Regions from separate parts of the Homo sapiens genome. Here regions 2, 3, 4, 5, 6 and 7 are each linked to region 1. Evidence: fine-mapped expression QTL. A gene starts in region 1. Each other region holds a variant in brackets. All regions are shown on one strand. Distances are from middle to middle.

Region 1 (4,067 bases):
ACCAGCCTGGCCAACACGGTGAAACCTGCCTCTACTAAAACTACAAAAATTAGCTGGGCATGGTGGCGGGAATCTGTAATCCCAGCTACTCGGGAGGCTGAGGTGGGAGGATCACTTGAGCTGGGGAGGCAGAGGCTGCAGGCGGCCAAGATCACCCCACTGCACTCCAGCCTGGGCGACAGAGTGAGACTCTGTCTCAAAAACAAGAAATGCTGAAGAAACCAATACTCTTTCTTTGATCTCAGACTCTCCAAAGACAAAACAGAATAGATTTTTAATAAAATCAATGACCCTGTATTGACTGTAAGAGCCAGGAGCTGGAGTTTTATATACGTTATGTATTTTATTTGAGACCAGGTCTCCTTCTGTCACTCAGGCCGGAGTGTAGTGACGCTATCAAGGCTCACTGTAGCCTCAACCTCCAGCGCTCAATCGATCGATCCTCCCACCTCAGCCTCCTGAGCAGCTGGGAACTACATGCTCACACCATCACACCTGGCCAATTTTTTTTTGTAGAGTTGGGGTCTTGCTATGTTGCCCAGGCTGTATATTATTTCAGTCCCAACAACACCATGGGGCTAGTATCCCAGCACACTATTAAGAGAAACAGATAAGGCTGGGATTCCAACCCTGGCACTGAGTCCCCTCTCAACGACACCCTTACATTGTCTGTCCGGAATCACAGCGTTTCTGGATTTGGTGATCAGGAGGTTACCTGGAGCCTGCTGAAGTGAAATCTGCATTAACTGTACGTTTCAAAGTGCAAAGAAAAGGAGAAAGCCAAGGTGATGAGAGGCGGGCAGGGAGCAGGAAAAGGGAGGCTGTGTTAGATGGGCACTACATATTTAAACATCCAAAAAAATTAAATTCTGTGAACATCCAAAACAATGTAAGGTCGGGGCAGTTTATTTTACGCTGTTGCCCGGAGCTTCATAACCAACTAGCAGTGGCGTCTGCAAATCTAGTTTCTTCACTTTCGGCAGCCCCAGCCGTGGGCGTGGGAGGTCAAAGACCAAAACTAAACCGTTGCCCTCCAGCGTACCGGCTGGACGCTCTCGACCCATTTAACAAAGGAGAAATCGGCCGGCGCGCTCATCGCCAGTTACATAATGCGTCACAGGCTCTCGGGTGAGGCTTCAGCCCTCCAAAACCAGGCCTAAAATGCTGAGGCCCTAGGGGAAGCTCTGGGGGCGTCCGGGCAGCCACAGCCTACTCTGTCCCGGCGACGTCCCTCTCCAGCGCCCTGGCCTGTGGGGGGAGAGGGGGATCCGGCCTGTTTCCGAACCTAGGTCCCTCTTGGGTCTGAAGCCCGGGAAAAGTGAATGAATTTCTGCCGCAGGCCGAACCTGCCTGGCCACGCCACAGGCCGGGTTCCCGGTGCTCGGGGTGGCCCCCAGGCATGGGACATGGACCCCGGGACCTCTGGCCTGGGGGGGCCTCGACACACGCAGGCTGAACCTCCCCACCGCCCCTGGCCCTGTCTCCGCTGGGTCCCACCCAGGAGGCCGGCACAGGCCTCCGCGCCGTGCCGCTCGCTGCACGCCCGCCGCCCGGTGTACCTGGGTGGGCGTCAGCACTTTGCCCAGCTCGTCCACCGCCGCCCCGGCGTAGGTGACATGCAGCGGGTGCTGCGGCTGCTCGTCCACTTCTTGCAGGCTCAAGGGCCCGGACCACTTGCTGAGGTCCACCGGCATGGCGAGGCCAAGCAGAGCGTGCAGCCGGGAGTGCCGCGGTAGGCCAGGCGCGGGCGACAGAGGCGACGCGGAGAGCTCAGCACACTGGCTCGGGAAGACGCAGACCCAGCGACCACGCGAGAGCACGCGCCTCAGCCGCCGCCCAGCCCCGCGCACCGCCCCACGTCACGCCCACCGCTCCCTGGCCTCTGATTGGCCGAAGCTGGCAGAGCAGGGCCTCTCGCGCTCCTGGGTCCATGCAACCTGCTCCCTGTGGCTGCCGAGTTCTCGGGAACAGCGGCTCGGCCTGCAAGGCTGTTGTTTCAAGAAATGAAAATGAAGGGCGCCCTGGAATAGGTTCGCCGAAGAGAGAGGTTCGTGTCTCAGAAAGTGTCGCTGGGAAAAAAAAATGCAATTGAATTCGCCTTGGTTGCGTTTTGGTTTTCTTAATTTTTTGCATGATTCTTTGCTCCACTTTCCAAATTCAGCAACATGGCCTGTCGCGGTGGCTCATGCCTGTATTCCCAGCACTTTGGGAGGCCAAAGCAGGAAGATCGCTTGAGCCCAGGAGTTTGAGACCATCCTGGACAAGGTAGCAAGACCCCGTCTTTACAGAAAACTTAAAAAAAAAGAAAAAAAGAAAAAAGCCAGACACAGTGGTGCATGCTTGTAGTCCTAGCTACTCCGGAGGCTGGGGCGGGAGGATCACTTTTTTTTTTTTTTTTTTTTGAGACGGAGTCTCTCTGTGTTGACCAGGCTGGAGTGCAGTGGCGTGATCTCGGCTCACTGCAAGCTGCGCCTCCCGGGTTCACGCCATTCTCCTGCTTCAGCCTCCCGAGTAGCTGTGACTACAGGCGCCCGCCACCACGCCCGGCTAATTTTTTGTATTTTTAGTAGAGACGGGATTTCACCGTGTTAGCCACGATGATCTTGATCTCCTGACCTCGGCCTCTCAAAGTGCTGGGATTACAGGCGTGAACCACCACGCCCGGCCGATCACTTCTTGAATCTAGGAGTTTGAGGCCGCGGTGAGCTACGATCTTGCCACTGCACTCCTGTCTGCGCTTCAGAGCCAGATCCCATCTTCTCATACACACACACACACACACACACACACACACACACACACACAGCAAATTCAGAAACAGTAAGGCCTTGCTTTTCTCCTGCACTTTAAAACGAGCCAGATTCTCTGTATTTTCGCACGTGATCACTTGTCATAGTAATTGCCTGGTGAGAGCACCTGAGTGAACTTTTGAGCATTTAAATATATGGGGAAATGTATTTGTCCGTTTTCTCCACACACAAAATTCGTCCTCACAAAATTCCTGAGAAATGTTTGGGTTTTGGTTTTTTATGTTTGTTTTTTGAAAAACAATTTTAAACCATATTTATTCATACCAAAACTGCTCTTACTGTGACCACAAGCTGCTTGCTTTTTGCTGAATATGATAAGCACTATTTTTTTTTTTTTTTTTTGAGACGGAGTCTTGCTCTGTCGCCCAGGCTGGAGTGCAGTGGCGTGATCTCAGCTCACTGCAACCTCTGCCTCCCGGGTTCAAGCAATTCTCCTGTCTCAGCCTCCCGAGTAGCTGGGATTACAGGCAGGCGGCACCGCGCCCAGCTAATTTTTGTATTTTTAGTAGAGACAGAGTTTCACCATGTTGGCCAGGCTGGTCTCGAACTCCTGACCTCATGATTCGCCTGCCTCAGCCTCCCAAACTGCTGGGATTACAGGCAATAAGCCACCGCGCCCAGCCAATAAGCACTATTTAACAGTTCTTATCTGTTTTGACTCTTGACATTGATAATTCCTCCCATGGAATAAAAAGTTGTCTCTTGATTTACATTCTTACTAGGAAATAATACGAGTTCATTGTAGAAAATCAAAGAAAAAAACCCAAAGAAGTAGAAATCCCCTTCTATCCCACTACTTTGTTATAAACGTCAGTAATCATTTAGGGTATATCTTTCCTATTTAAAAATAATATGAGTATAGATGATTTTGTTGTTTATTCACCAAAAGATTGCATTATATCCTACCATTATAAAATAGTCATATCAAAAATAGGTCGTCAGGCCAGGTGCGGTTGCTGAGGCCTCTAATCCTAGCACTTTGGGAGGCTGAGGCAGGAGGATCACTTGAGTCCAGGAGTTTGAGACCAGCCGGGACAACATGGTGAAACCCCATCTCTACAACAAAATACAAAAATTAGCCCGGTATGGAGGGATGTGCCGGTAGTCACAGCTACTACCAAGGCTGAGGCAGGAGGATCACTTGAGCCTGGGAGTTTGAGGCTGCAGTGAGCCGTGATTGTGCCACTGCACTCCAGCCTGGGCGACAGAGTGAGACCCTATCTCTACAAAAATAAAGCAAAATAAAAAAAGTCTTCA
Region 2 (4,067 bases), 62 kb before region 1:
TTCTTCATCTTTAAATGCAGTAGAGATGGAGCCAGGGCAGAGTCAGAGGCACCGAAGATAGAAGAAAGGGATATAGTTAAAGAGGCAGGATTTCAGAACGTAGACATAACAAGAACAGGAGTATTTTAGCTTTTTAACAGAAAATAAAATAAACATAAAAGTATTTTATCAATAATTTTAAAAATGAAGCTCGGAAAGTTGCATTGAACTATAAAATTTCTTGATTGCATATATAGAAATGATCCCCTTTAATTGGGAAAATAAGTCTGTTAAAAATAATGTATTATCTTCCATTTTATATTACCCAGTAATTTTTTATATTGCCATGGCTAAGTAACAGTTTATTAAAGTTATATGTGTACCATATGGTTTTTTGAGAACAAGGTTTATTTGTAGCTAAATGGATTTAATTTTATTATTCAATCTTATATCAAAAGATATCCCACTGTGATGGATAAATTATATGTTCTGATTATTTTACCACTTTTCAAATAGTAGTCTTTGGGCCAGTAATGATGAATACCAGTATTATTTAACAGATATATATAATAAGATTACAGAGATAAGCATGATAGAATCGCTTGAGGGAGGCAGACTTTAATTACCTGTCCAGGAAAGTAGAATTAATATTTCTGCTTAGATATGAAGTTACTCAATAATGACTTGCAGAGGGAGCATATTGCTTGTCAAATATCTGAAAACTCTTTCCACTCTACTTTTTCAAGTGACCACTGCTGTATTTGAAGATATCCTAGAGCTCACCTGTTTAGTGGCCAGCAGTCTTCCTCTAGCTCCTTGATGTTCCAGAAGGTCCCTTACAAACCTGGCTTGATTTTGCTTACTGAATAGCAACACGATAATATGATAGTGTGTATGACAGGGGAAAGCCCTGGGATGGCAGCATTTGGAGCCTTATGACCCACGTCCAGAATGGCCCCTGGGGAAGGCATAGGAAGCAAATATGAGATGTATGAAAATGGTGGAGGAGTAGTGGAGCCAGTACATAAAAAGTTTGTCTTTGCAGATTGGCAGAAAAGCAACTTGACACTGCAAAATTGAGTGTGCTTGACACTTTTGTCAATGGATTGACTCTTTATCTTCAGTCTTTTTTTCTAACCTCAGTGCCCCATTTTTACAGGACAGTGAACATGGAACCAGCCTGAACAGGGAAATGGACAGCCTGGGCAGCAACCATTCCATTCCAAGCATGTCCGTGAGCACAGGCAGCCAGAGCAGCAGTGTGAACAGCATGCAGGAAGTCATGGACGAGAGCAGTTCCGAACTTGTCATGATGCACGATGACGAAAGCACAATCAATTCCAGCTCCTCCGTCGTGCATAAGAAAGTAGGTTTCTTGGTACCCTCCACAGAGGTGAGCTTTGTCAATCATAGCGAATCCAGTTCAAGTCACTTAGCTTCCAGATGTTTCAGTTACCTTTTTGCAACTGCAGTGTGGTACTAAACCTGGCATGTGACAGTTTTCTTACAGTCAAAAAGTAACAAAGGACTACACAGGCTACATCTGTGCCTATTTCTTCATCTCCCTCTCTCATTACTCTGATGTCCATCATCATCAATAAATAAGTTGAAGAATTTGATAAGTCCTTCTCTAAACCAATAATCTTAATACTGTAGACCTTCAAGTCTTCCTGAGTGTACCTGTTGGTTGTGCCCTTTTAGAAGTATGCTCTTTCAAAAGTATGTTTCTTGGCTGGGCGTGGTGGCTCACATCTGTAATCCCAGCCCTTTGGGAGGCCTAGGCGGGTGGATCACTTGAGGTCAGGAGTTTGAGACCAGCCTGGCCAACATGGCGAAACCCCGTCTTTACTAAAAATACAAAAAATAGCCGGGCCTGGTGACATATGCCTGTAATCCCAGCTACTCGAGAGGCTGAGGCAGGAGAATTGCTTGAACCCAGGAGGCAGAGGTTGTAGTGAGCCGAGATCGCGCCATTGCACTCCAGCCTGGGCAACAGAGTGAGACTCAAAAAAAAAAAAAAAAAAAAA[G/A]AAGAAGAAGAAAGAAAGAAACTTGCCTCGGGTAAAAGGAGGACTTACTCTAGCAGGGAGTAAGAAAAGCCTACCTGATGAGGTGACATTTAAGCAGAAATTTCAAAAACAAATAGAAGCTAGCCAGCTGGGGTAAGAGATGGGGATGAGTCAGAAAGCAACAAGTACAAGAGCACTGAGACAGAGAGAGCTTTGTATGTTCAAGGAAAAGGGGAAGGCCATAGAAGCTATGGCTGGTGTGCTATGTGGACAGTGCCTCAGGACCAGAGAGACAGCAAAGGACCCAGATTATCAGGAAGACATGGAAGCAATTTGAGGAAAGCAAAGATGTCAGACAGATGCAGAAATCTACCAAGAGATCAGCATTGCCAGCTGGTGTCCTTTCAACATGGGCAAGTGATCATGTATTTGAAGAGTAAAAAAGAAGGTTTTGAGGCCAGGCGCAATGGCCGAGGTGGGCGGATCACGAGGTCAGGAGATCGAGACCATCCCGGCTAACATGGTGAAACCCCGTCTCTACTAAAAATACAAAAAATTAGCCGGGTGTGGTGGTAGGCACCTGTAGTCCCAGCTACTCGGGAGGCTGAGGCAGGAGAATGGCGTGAACCTGGGAGGCGGAGCTTGCAGTGAGCCAGGATTGCGCCACTGCACTCCAGCTTGGGCAACACAGTGAGACTCCGTCTCAAAAAAAAAAAAAAAAAAAAAAAGAAGGTTTTGCTGGGCTGTCTTTTTGGAGGGAGTGATCATGAGTGCTGACAGGTCTGGCACTTTCCTTTCTATTACCCCTGGGGCTCTATGAGTAGAGGGGGCAAAAGAGAGGAATTCAGTTGGATCTTTTTGCTCCAGGACTTCTCAGATAGGCAACCAGAATTAGAAGAAAGACACTACTGGCATAATCAACAAGAAAGAAAACCCTGGTCTAGAACTAATGGGATTTTTAATTTTATTTTTGCATGCTGTCATAGACCTACCTTGTGATAATATGAGTGTTTCAATACTTTTCTCTCCCTGATGTGTGATGACTTAAGTAGAACAGATAAAATTTATATTCTGAAGTAGAAGATAATTGCATTTGATCCACAAAAAATATATAGGTCAGGAAGAATTTAAGTTATATATTCCTATTTTATCATGAAATATATAGAGGAAATATGATGGAAGAAAATCAAAACACATTTGCAAATAAAACTTTGGATGAGTTACCTTTAAAATGTAAGTGAGCTCAAAAAATAGAATATATATGAAAACTTAAGATATGGTATCTTTTCATGAAATCCATTTAGTTCTTGTACCTGAGCTTTAAAATATGTTATCTTTAAAAACAATAGAAATAAAAATTATTCATGAAGTTTGTATTGGATGGTTTACTCAAATTCCTAACACTTTTTCACTTGGGAACATAAATAGGATTTTTAACTCTCAACAGAAAATTTTGTATATTAAACTTAGGAATGAGGAAACTAATTTATAGTTCTATCTGCCTCTGTTAGTTTTATTTTACTTTGGACAAATAACAAATCCAATACCTAGAATAGTGCCTGGCGCAGCATAGATGCTCAGTAAATAACTGTGGAATGAATGAATAGACCAACAAAACCAAAAAGAAGGCAGGGAATAAATTAATTACCAAATATTAAATATCATACTCTACTGGTTCATTGAACATAATGGATCAAAAGGATTAAATAATCTTAGCTATCTTTACAGTTTGAGAAAGTTAAATAATAGTTAAATGAAAGTTAAATGAGTACCCAACACAATAAGAACGTGCTTAATAAATACCAAAATATATGAATATGGGAGAAGGAATCTTTTGTCCCTTGATTGTTATAATCAAGCAGATATATCTTTTCTTTTCTTTTTTTAATTTTTGGAGACAGAGTCTCACTGTGTTGCCCAGGCTGGAGTGCAGTGGTGCAATCTCGGCTCACAAGCAGACATATCTTAAATTAGTCAAATTAATTTGACTGGTAGTCAAAACAGATCTGAAACAGATTACCATTTTAGATAGGAAATAAATTTGCTTTTTCAAAGAAGGACCTTAAAAAAATAAATAAAATG
Region 3 (4,067 bases), 68 kb before region 1:
CTGTTTGTAAAAGGTTTAAACAGGTAAGAGTTTATCTCATGTAATAGGAAGTCCAGGACATTGGAAAAGGAAGTGGCGTAAGCAGTCCAAAGCTCTAAGCAGCTCAACAATGTCGTCATCGACCCAAGCTCTTTCTCTCTTTCTACTTCACCATCCTTAGCATGTAGCTTTTATTGTCTTTGTCATAAAATGGCTGCTACATTGCCATGACTCAAGTTTTCATTCCAGGCAGGAAGAAGGAGAGAGAACAAAGGGTAAAACACCTTGTCCTCATGTGTCTTGCCTTTTTATTCTAGAAAATAAAACCTTCCTTGAGAACTTCTGCCTACCTCTCACTGGCCAGAACTTAGTCACTTAGTGATCTGTAACCACAAAGAAGGCTTGGGTTCAGTTCCTTTACTTCCTAGTGCTTCAAGTAAGGCAAAAAAAAAAAAAAGAGAGAGAGAGAGATTGGGTCTGAAAGCTGTGGCTCATGCCTGTAATCCCAGCACTTTGGGAGGCTGAGGTGGGTGGATCACCTAAGGTCAGGAGTTTGAGACCAGCCTGGCCAACATAGTGAAACCCCATCTCTACTAAAAATACAAAAAGTAGTTGGGCGTAATGGTGCACGCCTGTAATCCCAGCTACTGGGGAGGCTGAGGCACAAGAATCACTTGAACCTGGGAGGCAGAGTTTGCAGCGAGCTGAGATTGCACCACTGCACTCTAGCCTGGGTGATAGAGTAAGACTTTGTCTCAAAAAAAAAGAAGTTGGAATGGGGGAATGACATGTAGTATCTGTTGCAATGAATGATCATACCTGTATTTTAGAAAGATAATTATGGTAGTAGGACACCAGAAAATAACCACCACCACCCACACCCCTGGCAGAAAAAAATTTTTAAAGCCTGAGTTGCAGCCGTAGCTCTTCTACTAATTAGCTATGGAAATCACCTAACTTCTCAGGGCCCAAATTTTCTCACTTTGAAAAAGAAAAATTTTCTTTCTTTTTTTTTTTTTGAGACAGAGTCTTTCTATGTCACCCAGGCTGGAGTGCAGTGGCCTGATCTCGGCTCATTGCAAGATCTGTCTCCCAGACTCAATTGATTCTCGTGCCTCAGCCTCCCGAGTACCTGGGACTATAGGCGGGCACTACCACGCCTGGCTAATTTTGGTATTTTTTATTTTTACTTCTTATTTATTATTTTTATTTTTTTTAAACAGAGTCTCACTCTATCACCTAGGCTGGAGTGCAGTGGCATGATCTCGGCTCACTTCAGCCTCCTTCTCCCAAGTTCAAGCAATTCTCCTGCCTCAGCCTCCCGAGTAGCTGGGACTACAGGCACGTGCCAACATGCCCTGCTAATTTTTGTATTTTTAGTAGAGACGGAGTTTCATCATGTTGGCCAAGCTGGTCTTTGATACTCCTGACCTCATGTGATCCCCCTGCCTCGGCCTCCCCAAGTGCTGGGATTACAGTTGTGAGCCACCATGCCCGGTCCCTAATTTTGGTGTTTTTAGTAGAGATGGGGGTTTGCCATGTTGGCCAGGCAGCTCTTGAACTCTTAGTCTCAGGTGATCTGCCC[G/A]CCTTGGCCTCCCAAAGTTCCGGGATTACAGGAATGAGCCACCATGCCCAGCCTTGAAACAGAAAGTTTTCTAAGAGGCATTCCCGTTCTAAAATTCTATGATGTTAAGTCATAGCTTTAAGTTTACTAAAAACCGATTAGCTCTTTATAATTGTAAGCACTAGAGGAGGAAAATGATAATACTTTCTTCCTTTCTTTCTCATCCTTGAAATGTGCAGGCTACACTTGCTTCTGGGAATGATGTTTTTTATTCAAAAAGGACTCTACCTAGGAAGAGGTATTTTATAAAAGCAACAGCAAAAACCACAATTCCTCTAAGAGAGTCAGAATGCAGAACCACAAGACATATAGATTGTTTTCTCACAAGGGCCCTATTATTTTTTATCTGTTTAAATTATAAAGAAATTAAATTCATTTCATCAGCTAAGGCCCACTACATTATATCTCATTTTCCCAATGTCTTCAAATTACAATTTTACATAAGTAAATTTTCCACATAACTGAACTTTTGCCTTTAAAAAATAATGTCTTTTTTTTTTTTTTTTCCATTCTGTCACCCAGGCTAGAGTGCTGTGGTGCAATCTCGGCTCACTGCAACCTCTGCCTCCCAGATTCAAGCCATTCTCCTGCCTCAGCCTCCTGGCTTGCTGGGATTACAGGCATGCATCACAATGCCCAGCTAATTTTTTGTGTTTTTAGTAGAGACGGGGTTTCACCATGTTGGCCAGGCTAGTCTCAAACTCCTGACCTCAAGTGATCAGCCTGCCTCGGCCTTCCAAAGTGCTGGGATTACAGATGTGAGCCACCACGCCCAGCCTAATGTCACTTCTTGAGGGCTCAGAAACAGTGTTTCGTGAACTCTTGAGGCATAAAAGGGGCTATATAAGGGGCATTTGCCCTTTTGCAAAATAGCCCACAAACCTGTTTTATTATTATTTGTTTGGTTGATAGGTCTGTTAGTCATGAAATTTCTCTCTGTTTCTCTACTCTCAAGCTGTCAGAGAACTTACAAAAGCTACTTCTTTTTACAACAGGTGGTAACCCTACCTTTCCCAGTCCTCAATCCTTTACTCCTCACTCTTTTTTTTTTTTTTTTGAGATGGAGTTTCACTCTTTTTGCCCAGGCTGGAGTGCAATGGTGTGATCTCAGCTTACCGTAACTTCTGCCTCCCAGGTTCAAGCAATTCTGCTGCCTCAGCATCCCGAGTAGCTGGGATTACAGATGCACGTCACCATGCCCAGTTAATTTTGTATTTTTAGTAGAGAAAGGGTTTCACCATGTTGGCCAGGCTGGTCTTGAACTCCTGATCTCCAGTAATCCACCCGCCTCAGCCTCCCAAAGTGTTGGATTATAGGCGTGAGCCACCGCGCCAGGCTTACTTCTCCATTCTTATTCTCTGTCTAACCTGCTATGGGCTGAGAAACTAGGAAACCAGATTATGTAACAATCATTAATAATATTGAAAGTGAGGGATGTTTATATCAAGATTAATTTATGGACTTTAGGGCAGTTGTTTTCACTCCTCAGAGACCCTTTTTTTTAATTGGGGAAATGAAGTTGCCAGAATTTTGACCTCTGGATAAATTGAACAACTGGCATATTTTCAAGCATACACTATACGGCCACAGAAATAGAGAACAAAATATTCACAAGTCTGTTTTTCAAGGGATAGTGTGTATGGGGGTGAGGATTGAGGCAAGTTATAATAAGAATAGAACAAGGTGCGGTGCGGTGGCTCACGCCTGTAATCCCAACACTTTGGGAGGCTGAGGCGGGTGGATCACTTGAGCTCAGGAGTTTAAGACCAGCCAAGGCAACATGGTGAAACCTCGTCTCTACTAAAAATACAAAAATTAGCCAGGCATGGTGGTGCATGCCTGTAATTCCAGCTACTCGGGAGGCTGAGTCAGGAGAATTACCTGAACCCAGGAGGTGGAGGTTGCAGTGAGCCAAGATCGCACCACTGCACTCCAGCTTGGGTGAGAGAGCGAGACTCCATCTCAAAAAAAAAAAAAAAAAAAAAAAAGAATAGACTATACTATGCATTGCTTCTGCTTATTATGTAGTTTCAGATTTAAAAGGTACAAGCCTACCTCCTACTTCTTAAAGTTCTAGTGATTTTTTTATTACTTATATGATAAAGTAAACCTCAAGAATTCTTATATGAAAAGATACTCAACATTCACTAATTATTGGAAATGGAAATGAAAACCACAATGAGGTATCACCTCACACCTGTTAGAATGGCTATTATCAAAAAAGATAAGCGATAATAAGTGGCAAGGGTATAGAGAAAAGGGAATCCTTATATACTGTTGGTGGGAATGTAGATTGGGGTTGCCATTATGGAAAACAGTATGGAGGTTCCTCCAAAACCCAAAAAACAAAATGTTAATTTGTTCCAATAATCCCCCTGCTGGTTATATACCTGAAGAAAATGAAGTCAGCACCTCATAAAAATACCTGTGCCCCCATGTTCATCACAGCATTTTTCTCTATAGC
Region 4 (4,067 bases), 120 kb before region 1:
AAAAAATAAAAAAAAAAAGTTAAGAGCTTGAAGTTGAGCTTTGTGCATTTCCACTGTATGCTAAGCTCTTTCCTGCCTCAGAGCCTTATATGTGCTATTACCCCACCTAGAAAACTCTGCACATTACATCCCCATGCCTGTCCGTTCATCCTACAAGTTTTACCTTAAGTATTACTTTTGCAAGATACCCTTTACTGTTCAAGACTCCACCCCTAAATCAATACTTTATGATTTCATAACATCTTGTTCTTATATTTTGTTGCATTTATCACAGTTGTAATAAAACAATTACGTATACGATTTTTTGCTTTATATATGTCTTTTTCCCTAAATAACAAGTGTCATGAGGACAGGGTTTATGTCTATCTTGTTCATCGTTACAGACTCAAGAACTAGTATATGCCTGACAGTAGTAGGAATTTGATAAATAATGGATGGGTGGATGGATGGATGGATGGATGGATGGATGGTGGATAGACAGATAAACAGATGAACAGACAACTATTCAGAGAAAGGGACTGACAGTGATTTTTAGTGGCAATCATGTCAAGTCAGTATTTTCGTTTAAGGGGTACAAGGCTGTACCCCTAGAATCAGTTTTAGTTCCAAGAATGTGACTATCTCCTGATGAGAAAAACAAATAGCCAAAATTTTAACACAGCTTATTCACCTGAAATTCATTACATAAAATACAGTTTGTTTGTTCTTTTGTTTGTTTTTTGAGACAGAGCCTCGCTCTGTAGCCCAGGCTGGAGTACAGTGGCACGATCTTGGCTCACTGCAACCTCCGCCTCCTGGATCCCAGTTCAAGCAATTCTCCTGCGTCAGCCTTCCACATAGCTGGGATTACAGGCATGTGCCACCACGCTCAGCTAATTTTTGTATTTTTAGTAGAGACCGGGTTTCACCATGTTGGCCAGGCTGGTCTTGAACTGACCTCGTGATCTGACCACCTCGGCCTCCCAAAGTGGTGGGATTACAGGCGTGAGCCACTGCACCGGGCCCTGTTTTTTTTTTTTTGTTTGTTTGTTTGTTTGTTTTAAGACAGTCTTGCTCTGTCGCCCAGGCTGGAGTGCAGTGGCACAATCTCGGCTCACTACAACCTCCACCTCCCGGGTTCAAGCAATTCTCCCGCCTCAGCCTCCTGAGTAGCTGGGATTACAGACACCTGCCATCATGCCAGGCTAATTTTTGTATTTTTGTAGAGATGGGGTTTTACTGTGTTGGCCAGGCTGGTCTTAAACTCCTGACTTCAGGTGATCTACCCGTCTCGGCCTCCCCAAAGTGCTGGGATTACAGGCGTGAGCCACCGTGCCAGGCCAAAATATAGTTATTTAATTTAACAAATACTTCCTTAAGCATAATAGTCCATTAAAGCAAATAATAAATTAAGTACTAATTATTACCTACTTCTCCAAACTTGTAATCAAATAATTTCTTTGTAATCAAACATTACTGACTCTTCCATTTTAAGTGGTCCTTTATGTTCTGCCATCTGGATAGGGCTTATCTTTAGTTGTCCTTCCAAATGAGATTATTTTATGAATTGCATCTTTACTTTGTCCTTTTGCTTCTAGCCAAATCTTCAGCCTGGATTTTCTCTAAACTGTTTCTCAACCACTGCGTCTATGCTCAGCCCTACCATTACTTCTGCTTCCCTCACTACCATCAATAACTTGGCTCCCACTGAAGTATATTTTGTCATTAAATACAATAAAAGATTTTTCTGGCTGAAAAGGGTGCTAATTTCGGCTGGGCGCAGTGGCTCACGCCTGTAATCCCAGCACTTTAGGAGGCTGAGGCAGGCGGATCACGAGGTCAAGAGTTCGAGACTATCCTGGCTAACACGGAGAAACCCCGTCTCTACTGAAAAATAGAAAAACTTAGCCGGACATGGTGGTGGACGCCTGTACTTAGCTACTTAGCTACTCGGGAGGCTGAGGCAGGAGAATGGCGTGAACTCGGGAGGCAGAGCTTGCAGTGAGCCAAGATTGTGCCACTGCACTCCAGCCTGGGGGACAGAGTGAGA[C/T]TCTGTCTCAAAAAAAAAAAAAAGAAAAGAAAAAAGGGTGCTAATTTCTTAGTTAACACTCCCTTGTTAGTGTGTAGTCAGAATATCATTTAAGGCCCAAAGTTCTGTCTTCTTTAGTCTCAGGTCCTCTTGTTAACAAAGCGTTTTTATTATAAGTATACATAAAGAAGTATATACAATATACATATCTATTTTAATATAGAACTTCAGAAAGAATTAAAAGGTAAATCTCTGTGTAAAAACACCACCCAGATCAAGAAATACAATACTGCCAGCATCCCAAAAGCCCCTCTTTATGTCTCCCTCAGTCAGAACCCTCTCCGTCCCCTTAAGAGTATCCACCATTCTGATTTTTATGGTGATTATTTTCTTACTTTTCTTTATAGTTATAACCCACTTAATCTGTACTCCTAAAAATGTAAATTGGTTTTGCTTAGTTTTGAACTTTTTAAAAATGGAAACATCTGTATATATTCATTTGTGACCTGTTTGTTTTGCTTACAGATGTATTCTTCTGTCATCTTTGCTTTCTTTTCTTCTATTATTTTAAATCTAATTCATCTTCTCAGAATCTCTCCTGGCAAGAGTCAGTCTCTATTTGACTCTTCTCATTTAAAAAGCAGCCAAGGCCGGGTGCAGTGGCTCATGCCTGTAGTCCCAGCACTTGGGAGGCCGAGGCGGGTGGATCACGAGGTCAGGAGATCGAGACCATCCTGGCTAACATGGTGAAACCCCATCTCTACTAAAAATACAAAAAATTAGCCAGGCATGGTGGCGGGCGCCTGTAGTCCCAGCTACTGGGGAGGCTGAGGCAGGAGAATGGCATGAACCCGGGAGGTGGAGCTTGCAGTGAGCTGAGATTGTGCCACTGCACTCCAGCCTGGGGGACAGAGTGAGACTCTGTCTCAAAAAAAAAAAAAAGCAGCCAAACCCTTCTTAAAGTGCTAATGTTTCAGAATGACTACAATAAACCAAGCATGCTTTGAAACTTACTAAAAGCCATTTATAATAGTGGCAAAATGAGACCTACGTTGTACTAGGCTGCAGAAGACCTAGTGGTTTATTTGCTTTTTGGGCTAAGCCCTGTCTATTTAGCTAGAGTGTGTGCGTTTTTGAAGGTGAGGACTATTTCTAATATTTGTTTACAACTCTAAAGGCTGGCACGATCTCATTTACAGTAGGCACTAAATATATATTATTTGTTGCTGATGATAGACTAGAGAAATGATACAGGTAGCAGAGTGGCATTGATAAACGTAATCATTAACTCTATAGGGCCTGTATATAAATGTGAAAAGTACAGGCCTATGTACACCCATAAAGCACTAAAAAACAGATTAAAAGGGAATTAACTGACACTGTACTATAGAACTTACGAAAAGCTTTAACCTTTTATCTGTAGTGGTCACATGGGCAGTACCTTAAAAATGGATTTTCCTGTTGGCCAAAGTAGTATTTATATAAGTTGCTTCTTACTCCGTGCTAATAGATTTTTCCTTTTGTTACTTGTACCATTATTACCAGGAAGACTCTGCTATCTCTTATTTGGACAACTATGATTGCCTGCTTTGGTCTCTTCAGTCTGTTGTGCATACCTCGATGAGCTTGAAAAAAGAAATGTAAATCTCATCCCATCCCCTTTCCCTATAAAGCCTTTAGGGGCTCTCCCTCGTTCTTAGGCCAAGATCAAAATCCCTACTATAGCCAGCCCACAAGGTCCTTCATGGTCCCTATCTCTACTTGAGCTATCTTCTCTCTCATTCTCATTGCTGTAGCTCTGATTCCTTTCTTCTGATCATCCTTCCTGGAATCTTGCGTAAACTGTTCTCTCTCGAATATTTCTCCCTTCTATTTTCACCTTCTTAACTCCTGTTCATCATTTAGCTCTCAGCCTAAACCTCATTTCTTCAGGGAAGGCTTTCCTGACCTCCCTAAGTCACATCCACCGTTGTTGGTTCTCAAAGTAACAAATACCCTTCTTTGTGGCACATATCAGAATTGCAGTTTTACATTTTGTCTTTTATTGTTTTATTTTTGT
Region 5 (4,067 bases), 39 kb before region 1:
TAATCCCAGCTACTCAGGAGGCTGAGGCAGGAGAATCACCTGAACCCAAGAGGCAGAGGTTGCAGTGAGCTGAGATCGCACCACTGCACTCCAGTCTGGGCGACAAGAGCAAAACTCTGTCTCAAAAAAAAAAAAATTACCTAAAATGCTATTAAAACAGATTGCTAACCCACCCCCAGATTTTCAGATTTTATTTTATTTATTTATTTATTTTTTTATCTGACTGATTTTCAGATTTTAAAAATCTATCCCTAGATTTTCTGGGGTAGAGTTTGAAAATTTGTGTTTCTAACAAGCTCCCAGATGACGCTGCTGCTACTGCTTCAGGGACCACATTTCAAGAACCATTGATATAACTCTAAACCATTCTTGTCTTCTTCCTATGTATTTTCCACATCAGTCAAAGTGATCTTTTCAAACCATAAATCTGGTCATTCTACTGCATAGTTTTGAAATCCATTGTCTTCCCATTGCTTTTAGGACAAGTCAAAATCCTAGAAGTCCCTACACAGTCCCCTCCTAGCCTACTCGTTCAGTGACATCTCACACTAATGCTGCCCCTACCCTCAACCCACTCTTCGCTGCACCAGCCACCATGGTCACCTTTCAGTTCCTCAAATTTATCAAGCTCCACCCTTCCCCAAGGTCTTTCCACATACTGTTTCTTCCACCAAGATGTTCTCCCTACCCCCAAGCCCTCCCTGACCACAATTTTGCTCGGTTAATTCCTACTTCTCCTCCTTGTGCAATGCGGGATTGGTTATTAGGATCTTAACTTAAATGTCACTTTCCTAAGGAAGCCTTTTCTAACTGCCTCAGCCAAGACAGATGTCTCTGGTTTCCTAACTAGAGCCTTTAATTATACATTTGTTTAATGATTATTTGAGCTACTTACTCTACTAACTGGTAAGCATCATAAGAGCACAGACCATGTTTTTGTTTGCTCACAACTGTATCCCTGTGCCCTGTACACATGAATATTTGGTAAATGAATGATTGATTCTGGAATATTTGGTTGAAGACCACTAGTGGACTTAGGAGTTCTTCCCAAAGAACTGCACTTTGATCTGAAAGCTCAAATTTCTTCAGTTCTCCTTTTACCAGTACTTACAGGTGAATCGTCTGCAGCTCCATGGACTTTTCTTCTCATAAACCTTAGTATTTCTTATTTGTAGACTTACTAAGTGTATTAAGGTTTAATAAAATTCAATATGGCGCATTGTTTTAGTATATATAAAATCATGTGTTTGAGCTCATATTCTTTATTTTTTTTTCTTTTGAGATGGAGTTTCGCTCTTGTTGCCCAAGCTGGAGTGCAATGTCATAGTCTCGGCTCACTGCAACCTCCACCTCCCGGGTTCAAGCAACTCTCCTGCTTCAGCCTCCCAAGTAGCCGAGATTACAGGCGTGCACCACCATGCCCAGCTAATTTTTTGTATTTTTAGTAGAAACAGAGTTTCACCATGTTAGCCAGGCTGGTCTTGAACTCCTGACCTCAGGTAATCCTTCACCTCAGCCTCCCAAAGTGCTGAGATTACAGGCGTGAGCCACCACGCCTGGCCTGAGCTCATATTCTGATTTGTAGGTTAGCAATAGAGGACTCAGCAAGGTTCTCCTCCAATTCTTTTTTAGTTAGGAAGTGAAACCAAGGGGGTTGGGGTGGGCCTAGGGATTTTTTGTCCTGCCCAGGTAAGCCACTGGTAATTGTTAGACCTAACAGAAAATTGTATTTGATTTACACTGGCTGAATGGGTAGAATCTCTGACACCATAAGGTCTAGAAAACCCGGGTGTAGAGAGAATAGCCCAACTCAGAAGGTTCACATTCTTTCCATTTTCTCTGAGTTATTGGCTTGAGCTTAATTTTTATATCATAATATGATGTTGCTGGATCAGAGATAGCCTAAGAAATTTTGAGGTTTTTCTCCACTCTAAATACCTTCCTTGGCTGGGCACGGTGGCTCATGCCTGTAATCCCAGCACTTTGGGAGGCCAAGGTGGGTGGATCAACTGAGGTCAGGAGTTCAAGACCAGCCTGGCCAACATGGTAAAACGACATCTCTATAAAAATACAAAATTAGCTGAGCTTGATGGCGGG[C/T]GCCTGTAATCCCAGCTACTCAGGAGGTTGAGGCAGGACAAATTGCTTGAATACAGGAGGCAGAGGTTGCAGTAAGCCGAGATCACACCACTGCACTCCAGCCTGGGCAACAGAGTAAGACTCTGTCTCAAAAAAAAATCGTAAAATAAAATAAATAGATACCTTCCTTATTTCTAACTCCACGCGTCCACTCATCCACTGGAGGCCATACTTTATGACTATGGCCACCATTTTGAGTTTTTGTAACATTGAGATATTTGGAAATTTCATGAACTCTACCTTCTAGAAGATTTTCCCACAGAACAGCATTTAAGAGTCCCCACTCAGTCCTCAAGCATACGTCAATTTTTGGCTCACCATACTCAGACTTGAGTGCCAAAGCCCACAGGCCTACACTTCTGTCTTTGAACATGCTCATGAAAAAAAAAAAAAAGCCAGAAGCCAATTTGAGATAACCCCACTAGACCATTCTATGCAAAAGCTAATATTACTTTTTCTGAAGTAAAGCTTAGTTCAGACTATTTAAAGTGGCATATATATTTAGATATTTATATACTTACAGATATTGTCCTTGGAATGACAAAAAAATTTTTTCATTATCACCACTTTTGATAGATAACAGGAGTATCTAATACAGAATGATAGATGGTCCAGAAATAATTTATTCTTGATTTTGGAGTAAATTTTTGTGATTATATTTGAATCGGGGTCTGCAGTCTAGTGGTTAATGGCCAACCAAGTAGTGACATCACGGCATGAAGAGATGAATGACCCAGGCTTCCTCTTGTGATCCCAGCTTACTCCAGCTTACTCTGAAAACAACACTTTCTCTTGTTGATTCTAAGATTTCACTTACAGCTTCACTGGAACAGGATAGTTGAAAGTTGATTTACAGAGACTTCTTGGCTAAGAGATAAAATAGTCTATGATATCGGCATCACAAAACATTAAGTAAAATAGGTGTTAGCAACTAAAGGAGATTTTAGCTGAGTGAGTAGCTAACCAAATGAAGAAAGAAGAGTATACTGTACTTTCTTAACAAGTAGTCTTCTTCTTTTCACCACAGTTTAACATCTTAACAGTCCTGATTCACTGCTTTGTTTCCTTTGCTCAGATGTTCTGGAAAAATTGTGAATTTTGTCCTTGGAAAATATAGATGGTTTGTTTACTCTATAATCCCAAGTGAAGAATGTTTTTTCCTAAAATTCAAACTAGTGACATTTGCATAGTCACCTCTTCTCTTTGGAATCTGTCTGCTTCTCTCAGTCTTGTCACTACTTCCTTTGTCCAAGCTACTACCATCTCTCTTGCCTGGACCTTTCCAGTAGCCTCCCAGCTATCTTCATATGTTCTTGCCTCCTTCATTCTGTTCTCCCCATGGCAGCCAGAGTAATCATTTTCAAATGCATCTCATTATGACACTCTCACATGCATGAAATCCATTTCTCCTATACTAAAGATCAGTGTCCTTATATTGGCCTGTAAAGCCTCAATGGTCCTGCCTACCTGGCCAGACTTATCTCATATTACGTTACACCAGCCCCTCTGACCTTCTTTCAGCCCTTGATGGCACCATGTTTCCTCTCCAACCCCTAGGGTTTTGCACATGCTGTTTTCTCTACTGAGAGTATTCTTCCCTTTCCTTTTCCGCTGGTTAACTCTGAATAATTTTTCTTAGTTACTACCAAGATTAAATATTTTCTATTAAATTCTTCTAGGGCCAAGTACGTCCTCTTCAAAGCAGTGATCACAGTAATTTTTAGTTCATTTCTGCGGTTCTTTAATTTTTGATTCTATAATAAAGACACACGGTGGCAGTTATCATGGCCTTTTACTCACCTTTGTGTCCTGTATCTTGCACACTGCCTGTCACATGATAGGAGCTTGTTAAGTTTGTGTTGAGTGAATGAGTGAACAAATAATTTCTGTTAGTGAGAAACCAAAGATACAGAAACTCACAAGTGTCCCTC
Region 6 (4,067 bases), 22 kb after region 1:
CTTCAGTAAACACACTCACATGCAGCCCCTCCCAAGTGCTGGCAGGCCATTGTACATGCAGACTGCCAACATATAAAACCACAAGTCAAAGGTCAAACCATGCACTTGAATCTCTCAAGGTCCCTACTGGCCCTCTTCCACGTGTACTTTATTTCCTTGCATTCCTGTTCTAAAACTTTTTTTTTTTTTTTTTTGAGACGGAGTTTCGCTCTTGTTGCTCAGGCTGGAGTGCAATGGCGCGATCTCAGCTCACAGCAACCTCCACCTCCCAGGTTCAAGCCATTCTCCTGCCTCAGCCTCCCGAGTAGCTGGGATTATAGGCATGTGCCATCATGCCCGGCTAATTTTATATTTTTAGTAGAGACAGGGTTTCTCCATGTTGGTCAGGCTGGTCTCGAACTCCGGACCTCAGGTGTTCTGCCCACCTCCCAAAGTGCTGGGATTACAGGCGTGAGCCACCATGCCCAGCTAAAACTTTTTAATAAACTTTCACTCCTGCTGTGAAACTTGCCTTGGTTTCTTACTCTGTCTTATGCCCCTTGGTTGAATTCTCTCTTCTGAGGAGGCAAGGATTCAGGTTGCTGCAGGCCCGTATGGATTCACTGCTACTAACATCTCCATACAACAGAATATAATTTGGCCATAAAATGAAATGAAGTATTGATACAAGCTACAATGTAGATGAACCTTGAGAACATTGCGTTAAGTGAAAGAAGCCAGTCACAACATATATTGCTTGCTTCTGTTAACATGAAATGTCTGGAATAGGCAAAACCATAGAGACAGAAAGTAGATTCATGATTGCTGGGGGTTGGAGGGGGTGGGGAAATTGTGAGTGTGTCTTAGCCTGTTTTCTGTTGCATATATACCACAGACTGGGTAGGGTAATTTATAAAGAAAAAAAGTATATTTAGTACATGGTTCTGGAGACTGAGAAGTCCAAGAGCATGGAACAAGCATCTGGTGAGGACCTTCTTGCTGTATCATAACATAACAGAGGGCATCACATGGCAAGAGGACAAGAGCAAGAGAGCCAGAGAGCGCTTGCTTTTATAACAAAACCACTCCCACGATGGCAACACTAATCCATTCTTGAGGGTAGAGGGACTGAGTTTCCAACACATGAACTTTTGGAGGACACATTCAAACCATAGCAAGGTGATAGCTAAAGGGTATGGGGTGTCTTTCTGGAGTGATGAAAATCTAAAATTGATGGTAGTTATGGTTGTACAACCTTGTGACTATGCTAAAAGCCATTGAATTGTAGACTTTAACTGAGAGAGTTCTATGGGATGAATTATATCTCAATAAAGCTGTTATCAGCAGAGGGTGGTGGCTCATGCCTGTAATCCCAGCACTTTGGGAGGCCAAGGCAGGTGGATCACCTGAGGTCAGGAGTTCAAGACCAGCCTGGCCAATATGGTAAAACCCCATCTCTAATTAAAAAATACAAAAATTAGCCGGGTGTGGTGTTGAGCACCTGTAATCCCAGGTACTCGGGAGGCTGAGGCAGGAGAATCACTTGAACCTGGGAAGCGGAGATTGCAGTAAGCCAAGATTGAGCCACTGCACTCCAGCCTGGGCTACGAAGGAAGACTCTGTCTCAAA[A/C]TAAAATAAAATAAAAATAAAGCTGCTATCAAAAAAACTTTTACTGAATGTTACAAATCTGGATAATCACAATAGAGGGATCTTTATTGTTACATAAACTTTAAAAATACAAATTGCCAGGCGCAGTGGCTCATGCCTGTAATCCCAACACTTTGGGAGGCTGAGGTAAGATTATTGCTTGACCCAGGAGTTTGAGACCAGCCTGGGCAACATACTGAGACTCCATCTCTACAAATTTTAAAAATTGGCCAGGCATGGTGGTGAGGGTCTGTAGTCTCAACTACTCAGGAGGCTGACGTGGGAAGATCATTTGAGCCCAGGAGTTTGATAAGTGTGCCGTGGCACTCCAGCCTAGGCAACAGAGTGAGACCCCAGCTCTCTAAAAAAAAAAAAAACTGGAAAACACAAGTGTTAATGGCTGTATGATATTCCGACAGGGGCATATTAGGTAAACAGTAAAGACTGTAGTCTATGGAAGTTGGTGAGACAGCTCGTCACTGGGGAAGAAGACTAGGGGTTTGGGGTGGACAAAAGGGTTTCTTTCTCTATTTTTTTTTTCTTTTTTTTGAGACAGAGTTTCACTCTTGTCACCCAGGCTGGAGCACAATGATGCATTCTTGGCTCACTGCAACCTCCGGCTCTCAGGTTGAAGTGATTCTCCTGCCTCACCCTCCCGAGTAGCTGGGATTACAGGCACCCGCCACCACGCCCAGCTAATTTTTTTGTATTTTTAGTAGAGACAGCGTTTCACCATGTTGGCCAGGCTGGTCTCGAACTCCTGGACCTCAGGTGATCCTCCCACCATAGCCTCCCAAAGTGCTGGGATTACAGGTGTGAGCCACCGCGCCCAGCCAAAAGGCTTTCTTTCAAGGAGAATTTCACTATAAATTGCTTGGATTTTTTCTTGTTTGTTTGCTTCACTTACTGTTTTTTGTCTTTTGAGACAGGATCTCACTCTATTGCCTAGGCTGGAGTGTGGTAGTATGATCATGGCTCACTGAAGTCTTGAACTCCTGGGCTCAAGTGAGCCTCCTGATTCAGCTTCCAGAGTAGTCAGAGCTACAAGCATGCACCACTATGCCTGGCTAATTTTTAAATTTTTAATAATCTATTTATTTATTGGCTTATGAACAACATAAATGTATTTCTTACAGTTTGGGAGGCTGGGAAGTCCAAGATCAAGGTGCTGGCAAACTTGGTGTCTGGTGGGGGTCCACTCTCTGGTTCATAGATGGCTGTCTTTTCACTGTATCTTCACATGGTGGAAGAAGTGAACAAGCTCCTTTGGGTGTCTTTCATAAGGGCACTAATCCCATTCATGAGGGTTCCACACTCATGACCTTATCCCCTTCCAAAGGCCCCTCTAGCTAATACCATTAACTTAGGGATTTGAATTTCAACATATGAGTTTTGAGGGGACACAAATATTCTGACCATAACACCATACAAAAAAAAATAATTTGGCCAGGTGTGGCGGCTCATGACTGTAATCCCAGCACTTTGGGAGACTGAGGCAGGTGGATCACCTGAGTTCAAGAGTTTGAGACCAGCCTGACCAACATGGTGAAACCCCATCTCTATTAAAAATACAAAATTAGGCTGGGTGCGGTGGCTCACGCCTGTAATCCCAGCACTTTGGGAGGCCAAGGCAGGCGGATCACCTGAGGTCAGGAGTTTGAGACTAGCCTGGCCAACATGGTGAAACCTCGTCTCTACTAAAAATACAAAAATTAGCTGGGTGTGGTGGGTGCCTGTAATCCCAGCTACTTGGGAGGCTAAGGCAGGAGAATCACTTGAACCTAGGAGGCGGAGGTTGCAGTGAGCCGAGATCGCGCCATTGCACTCCGGCCTGGGCGACAGAGCAAGACTCCGTCTCAAAAAAAAAAAAAAAAAATTAGCCAGGGGTGGTGGCGTATGCCTGTAATCCCAGCTACTCAGGAGGCTGAGGCAGGAGAATCACTTCAACCCAGGAGGCGGAGGTTGCAGTGAGCGGAGATCACGCCACTGCGCTCCAGCCTGGGCAACAAGAGTGAAACTCCATCTCAAAAAAAAAAAATTTTATATAGGATTACATACCTAATGATAAAACTTAAGCCATATGGCCGGGCGCAGTGGCTCACGCCTGTAATCCCAGCACTTTGGGAGGCTGAGGCGGGCAGATCATGAGGTCAAGAGATCGAGACCATTCTGGCCAACATGGTGAAACCCTGTCTCTACTAAAAATACAAAAATTATCTGGGCATGGTGGCATGTGCCTGTAGTCCCAGCTACTTGGGAGGCTGAGGCAGGAGACTCGCTTGAACCCAGAAGGCGGAAGTTGTAGTGAGCCGAAATTGTGCACTGCACTCCAGCCTGGCAACAGACTCCTCTGTCTCAAATTACAAAAAATAAAATAAAATAAGCCATACAAATTCTAGAAAAACACAGTAGCGTATCTCTGTGACCTGCAGGTAGGCAAA
Region 7 (4,067 bases), 110 kb before region 1:
TTAGGCACAGGTGCGGAGACGATGCCAGTGCCCCTGGGTGCAGGGATGAGGCGCACCAGCACAGAGCCGCAGCGGCCTGTCACCTTGCAAGGGACAGTGTGGGGCTTGCCGATCTTGTTCCCCCAGTAGCCTCTGCGCACGGGGACAATGGAGAGCTTGGCCAGGATGATGGCCCCACGGATGGCGGTGGCCACCTCCTTGGAGCACTTAACACCCAGACCGACGTGGCCATTGTAGTCCCCGATAGCAACAAACGCCTTGAACCTGGTGCGCTGGCTGGCACGGGTCTGCTTCTGCACTGGCATAATCTTCAAAACCTCATCCTTGAGAGAGGCCCCCAGGAAGAAATCAATGATCTCTGATTCCTTAATGGGCAGGGAGAAGAGATAGATCTCCTCCAGGGACTTGATCTTCATGTCCTTGACCAAGCGGCCCAACTTGGTGACGGGCATCCACTCCTTATCCTCGGCCTTGCCTCCGCGAGCTCCGCGGCCTCGGCCCCGGCCCCGTCCACGGCCGCGACCCCGGCCCCGGATGCCACTGCCGAAACCTCCGCGGAAGCCACCGCGGTTCCCCATCCCAGGGCCACCAGGGCCTCCGTGCCCCCCCGCTGCACCGGCGTCATCCGCCATTTGTTGTTTTCTCGGAAAAGAAGCAATTCTTTTATAATTTTTTCTACACGTATACTCACATTATTACTATTTTGCAAAAATTGGATTCTACTTTATAGCTTGTTTTTGACCAAAACATTTTTAACATCTTTTCATATTGCATTGCACATAGATTACCTCATTCCTTAAGTGGTTATTTTATTATATGGTCATATCATATTTATTTATTTAACTGGTTCTCCATTGATGGACAGTTTACAAGGTGAAGCCAGAATGGGTCATTTGGGAATATGACATTTTTTGTTTGGTTTGATATATTAAACCCTAATCATTTTTTATATTACAATCTTTACATGTATCCAGAAAAGAATATAGATAAACTATACATTAAAATGGGAGTGGAGATGTCTATTTAGCCTATCAAAAAGTGAAGCATCTTTGAACTGTGATACTGCAGTATGGAGATATTATTTTAAATATAATATGAGGCCAGGCACGGTGGCTAACGTCTGTAATCCCAGCACTTTGGGAGGCTGAGGCGGGCAGATCACGTGAGGTCAGGAGTTTGAGACCAGCCTGGCCAAAATGGTGAAACCCCATCTCTACTAAAAATATAAAAATTAGCCAGGTGTGGTGGTGGGTGCCTATAATCCGCAGTTACTTGAGAGGCTGAAGCAGGAGAATAGCTTGAACCCGGGAGGCAGAGGCTACAGTGAGCCAAGATCGTGCCCCAGTGCACTCCAGCATGAGCAACACAGCTCGATTCTTTCTCCAAAAATAAAATAAAACACCTGTAATCTCAGCACTTTGGGAGGCCGAGGCGGGCGGATCATTTGAAGTCAGGAGTTTAAGACCAGCCTGGTCAACATGGTGGAACCCCATTTCTACTAAAAATACAAAAAACATTAGCGTGGCATGGTGGTGCGTGCCTGTAATCCCTGCTGCTTGGGAGGCTGAAACAGGAGAATCGCTTGAACCCAAGAGGTAGAGGTTGCAGTGAGCTGCACTCCAGCCTGAGCGACAGAATGAGACTGTCAATAAATAAATATATAAATAAATAGTCTCTAGTCAAATATTTAAGTTAAATTGGCTGAAACATCACTAATTCTTTTTCTTTTTCTTCTACCCTCTTAACACAGGCTACAAATGCTCACACCAGTGAGGTGGTGGCAATTAAGAAGATGTCCTATAGTGGGAAGCAGACCCATGAGGTGAGATAGAGACAGTTGTATACCTAAACTGAAATAAACAAGTTAGTATGAAATTAACAAAATTCTGGCCGGGCGCGGTGGTTCACGCCTGTAATCCCAGCACTTTGCGAGGCCGAGGTGGGCGGCTCACGAGGTCGGGAGATTGAGACCATCCTGGCTAACATGATGAAACCCCATCTCTACTAAAAATACAAAAAATTAGCCGGGCGTGGTGGCGGGCGCCTGTAGTCCCAGCTACTCAGGAGACTGAGGCAGGAGAATGGCGTGAACCCGGGAGGCGGAGCTTGCAGTGAGCCGAGATCACGCCGCTGCACTCCAGCCTGGGTGACAGAGCGAGGCTCTGTCTCAAAAAAAAAAAAA[G/A]AAAAAGAAAAAAGAAATTAACAAAATTCTTTAAACTTTTTTTTAGAACAATTTTTTTTTCCTTCTTGTGGAGCATATAATAAAAGTTCCTGAAGTTTTTCATACAAATGTGTGAACATTCATAATTATTTTTAAAAAGGCTAATGTTCTAGCTCAATTAACTATTTTGCAGGCTGGATGAGGTGGCTTAGGCCTGTAATCCCAGCACTTTGGGAAGCCAAGGCTGGAGGATCGCTTGAGCCCAGGAGCTCAAGACAAGCCTGGGCAATATGGTGAGACCCCACCTCTACAAAACATCAAACAAACTAGCTGGGTGTGGTGGTGTGTGCCTGTAGTCCAGCCACTCGGGAGGCTCAAGTGGGAAGATTGCTTGAGCCTGGGATGTGGAGGCTTCAGTGAGCTGTGACTGCAACACTGTACTCTAGCCTGGGTGCCTGAAAAGGAAAAAAACTATTTTGCAGACCAGAACATGGGTATGTGTAATGGCTTTTTTGTAATGTATTTGGTGATAGATTTGTGTTTACATGTATTCAAACTAAAGAAATGGCATGTTTAGGCCGGGCACAGTGTCTCACGCCTGTGATCCCAGCACTTTGGGAGGCCAAGGTGGGCGGATCACCTGAGGTCAGGAGTTCGAGACCAGCCTGGCCAACACGGAGAAACCTCGTCTCTACTAAAAATACAAAAAAATTAGTTTGGTCTGGTGGTGCACGCCTGTAGTCCCAGCTACTTGGGAGGCACGAGAATCACTTGAACCTTGAACCGGGCAGCAGAGGTTGCAGTGAGCCGAGATCGTGCCACTGCAGTCCAGCCTGGGCGATAGAGCAAGACTCTGTCTCAATTAAAAACAAAAAGAGAGAGAGAAAGAAATAGCATGTTTAAATAGCTTCTTCATTTATTAAACATTTACTTTATGTCCATTTACAATAATATAAATGATATATACGTATACTTGATAGGAAATACTATTTTCCTATCAAAAATTAAATTAAAATGTTCCTTTTCTGACTTCAATAGAAATGGCAAGATATTCTTAAGGAAGTTAAATTTTTACGACAATTGAAGCATCCTAATACTATTGAGTACAAAGGCTGTTACTTGAAAGAACACACTGCTTGGGTAAGTCGAAGGACCTCTATTATCTTTTACTATTACATTTTTTTCTTTTTCTTTTTTTTCTATTATCTATTTGATCTGTAAAATTACTAATTTCATTTCTGTTCCATTTAACTTTTGTTATCAGTATTTAACATTTGTTAATACTTTGGTGTGTCACTTGGTATATATTCTGTAAGATTAAATGATATCTAGCCTATTAGAAATTCCATTCTATAAACACTCAGAAAGAGATGGTGAAAAGTTGACATCATTTTATAATTATTTGTTTGTAAAAGTAAAAGGCACAGCCTTATATTCTCATCCTAGAATTTTTATCTTTGTCATTTCTCATCCTCCACTCCAGTTCCCCCCATATTTGGAATTGTTCTTGATGTTTTAATTGCTATGTGATTTTTACCAAACAGGGGCCACCATATGATTAAAATAAGAGACTTTTGTTCCACTCTGTCATCTTATTGTGATATATATATATAAATATATATACACATGCACACACACACAGACACACACACACTCATATATATATATATATTTTGTTTGTTTGTTTGTTTGTTTGGAGACAGATTCACTCTTGTTGCCCAGGCTGGAGTGCAGTGGTGCGATCTCAGCTGACTACAACCTCTGCCTCCTGGGTTCAAGTGATTCTTGAACCTCAGCCTCCTGAGTAGCTGGGACTACAGGCACATGCCACCACACCCAGCTAATTTTTTGTATTTTTAGTAGAGATAGGGTTCACCATGTTGGCCACGCTGGTCTCCAACTCCTG

Which allele goes with the higher level. Positions count from the first base shown, and alleles are read on the strand shown. Sizes are in standard deviations (SD) of each study's normalised expression. Not every link is listed here.
For the expression in prefrontal cortex of the gene that starts at base 1,780 in region 1, allele G in region 2 goes with a higher level than allele A (small effect, 0.25 SD a copy in CommonMind).
With allele A in place of G in region 7, the expression in monocytes after LPS of the gene that starts at base 1,780 in region 1 is lower (moderate effect, 0.53 SD a copy in Quach 2016).

What was found. PIP is the estimated chance that this variant, and not a neighbour inherited with it, causes the effect. A credible set is the group of variants that fine-mapping cannot tell apart.
Region 2: its variant is the best candidate, but not a certain one, in a credible set for the expression of PEBP1 in prefrontal cortex (CommonMind, PIP 0.82).
Region 3: its variant is the best candidate, but not a certain one, in a credible set for the expression of PEBP1 in whole blood (TOPMed, PIP 0.88).
Region 4: its variant is the best candidate, but not a certain one, in a credible set for the expression of PEBP1 in blood mononuclear cells (TOPMed, PIP 0.56).
Region 5: its variant is the best candidate, but not a certain one, in a credible set for the expression of PEBP1 in whole blood (INTERVAL, PIP 0.56).
Region 6: its variant is the best candidate, but not a certain one, in a credible set for the expression of PEBP1 in whole blood (TOPMed, PIP 0.56).
Region 7: its variant is the best candidate, but not a certain one, in a credible set for the expression of PEBP1 in monocytes after LPS (Quach 2016, PIP 0.51).

Annotation. Positions count from the first base shown.
Region 1 is chr12:118,133,837-118,137,903 of GRCh38, reverse strand. It overlaps PEBP1 (phosphatidylethanolamine binding protein 1), which reads right to left and starts at 1,780. Exons shown (of 4, transcript NM_002567.4): 1 at 1,560-1,780. The coding sequence starts at 1,694. It overlaps LOC101928274 (a long non-coding RNA gene), which reads left to right and starts at 1,912. Exons shown (of 4, transcript XR_945409.4): 1 at 1,912-2,047. RefSeq lists a silencer at 1,403-1,492 and an enhancer at 1,485-1,985.
Region 2 is chr12:118,196,329-118,200,395 of GRCh38, reverse strand. It overlaps TAOK3 (TAO kinase 3), which reads left to right. Exons shown (of 21, transcript NM_016281.4): 13 at 1,139-1,345. Among named protein-coding and RNA genes, the nearest start is that of PEBP1, 62 kb to the right of the region's middle. The variant G/A (reference allele first, on the strand shown) is at 2,007.
Region 3 is chr12:118,202,298-118,206,364 of GRCh38, reverse strand. The region is part of intron 11 of TAOK3 (TAO kinase 3); the gene reads left to right. Among named protein-coding and RNA genes, the nearest start is that of PEBP1, 68 kb to the right of the region's middle. The variant G/A (reference allele first, on the strand shown) is at 1,565.
Region 4 is chr12:118,250,709-118,254,775 of GRCh38, reverse strand. All of the region lies in intron 3 of TAOK3 (TAO kinase 3), which reads left to right. Among named protein-coding and RNA genes, the nearest start is that of PEBP1, 120 kb to the right of the region's middle. The variant C/T (reference allele first, on the strand shown) is at 2,030.
Region 5 is chr12:118,172,840-118,176,906 of GRCh38, reverse strand. All of the region lies in intron 16 of TAOK3 (TAO kinase 3), which reads left to right. Among named protein-coding and RNA genes, the nearest start is that of PEBP1, 39 kb to the right of the region's middle. The variant C/T (reference allele first, on the strand shown) is at 2,098.
Region 6 is chr12:118,111,923-118,115,989 of GRCh38, reverse strand. It overlaps LOC101928274 (a long non-coding RNA gene), which reads left to right. Exons shown (of 4, transcript XR_945409.4): 4 at 1-1,645. Among named protein-coding and RNA genes, the nearest start is that of VSIG10, 9.9 kb to the right of the region's middle. The variant A/C (reference allele first, on the strand shown) is at 1,609.
Region 7 is chr12:118,242,649-118,246,715 of GRCh38, reverse strand. It overlaps TAOK3 (TAO kinase 3), which reads left to right. Exons shown (of 21, transcript NM_016281.4): 4 at 1,751-1,822; 5 at 3,200-3,301. It also overlaps the pseudogene RPS2P5. Among named protein-coding and RNA genes, the nearest start is that of PEBP1, 110 kb to the right of the region's middle. The variant G/A (reference allele first, on the strand shown) is at 2,183.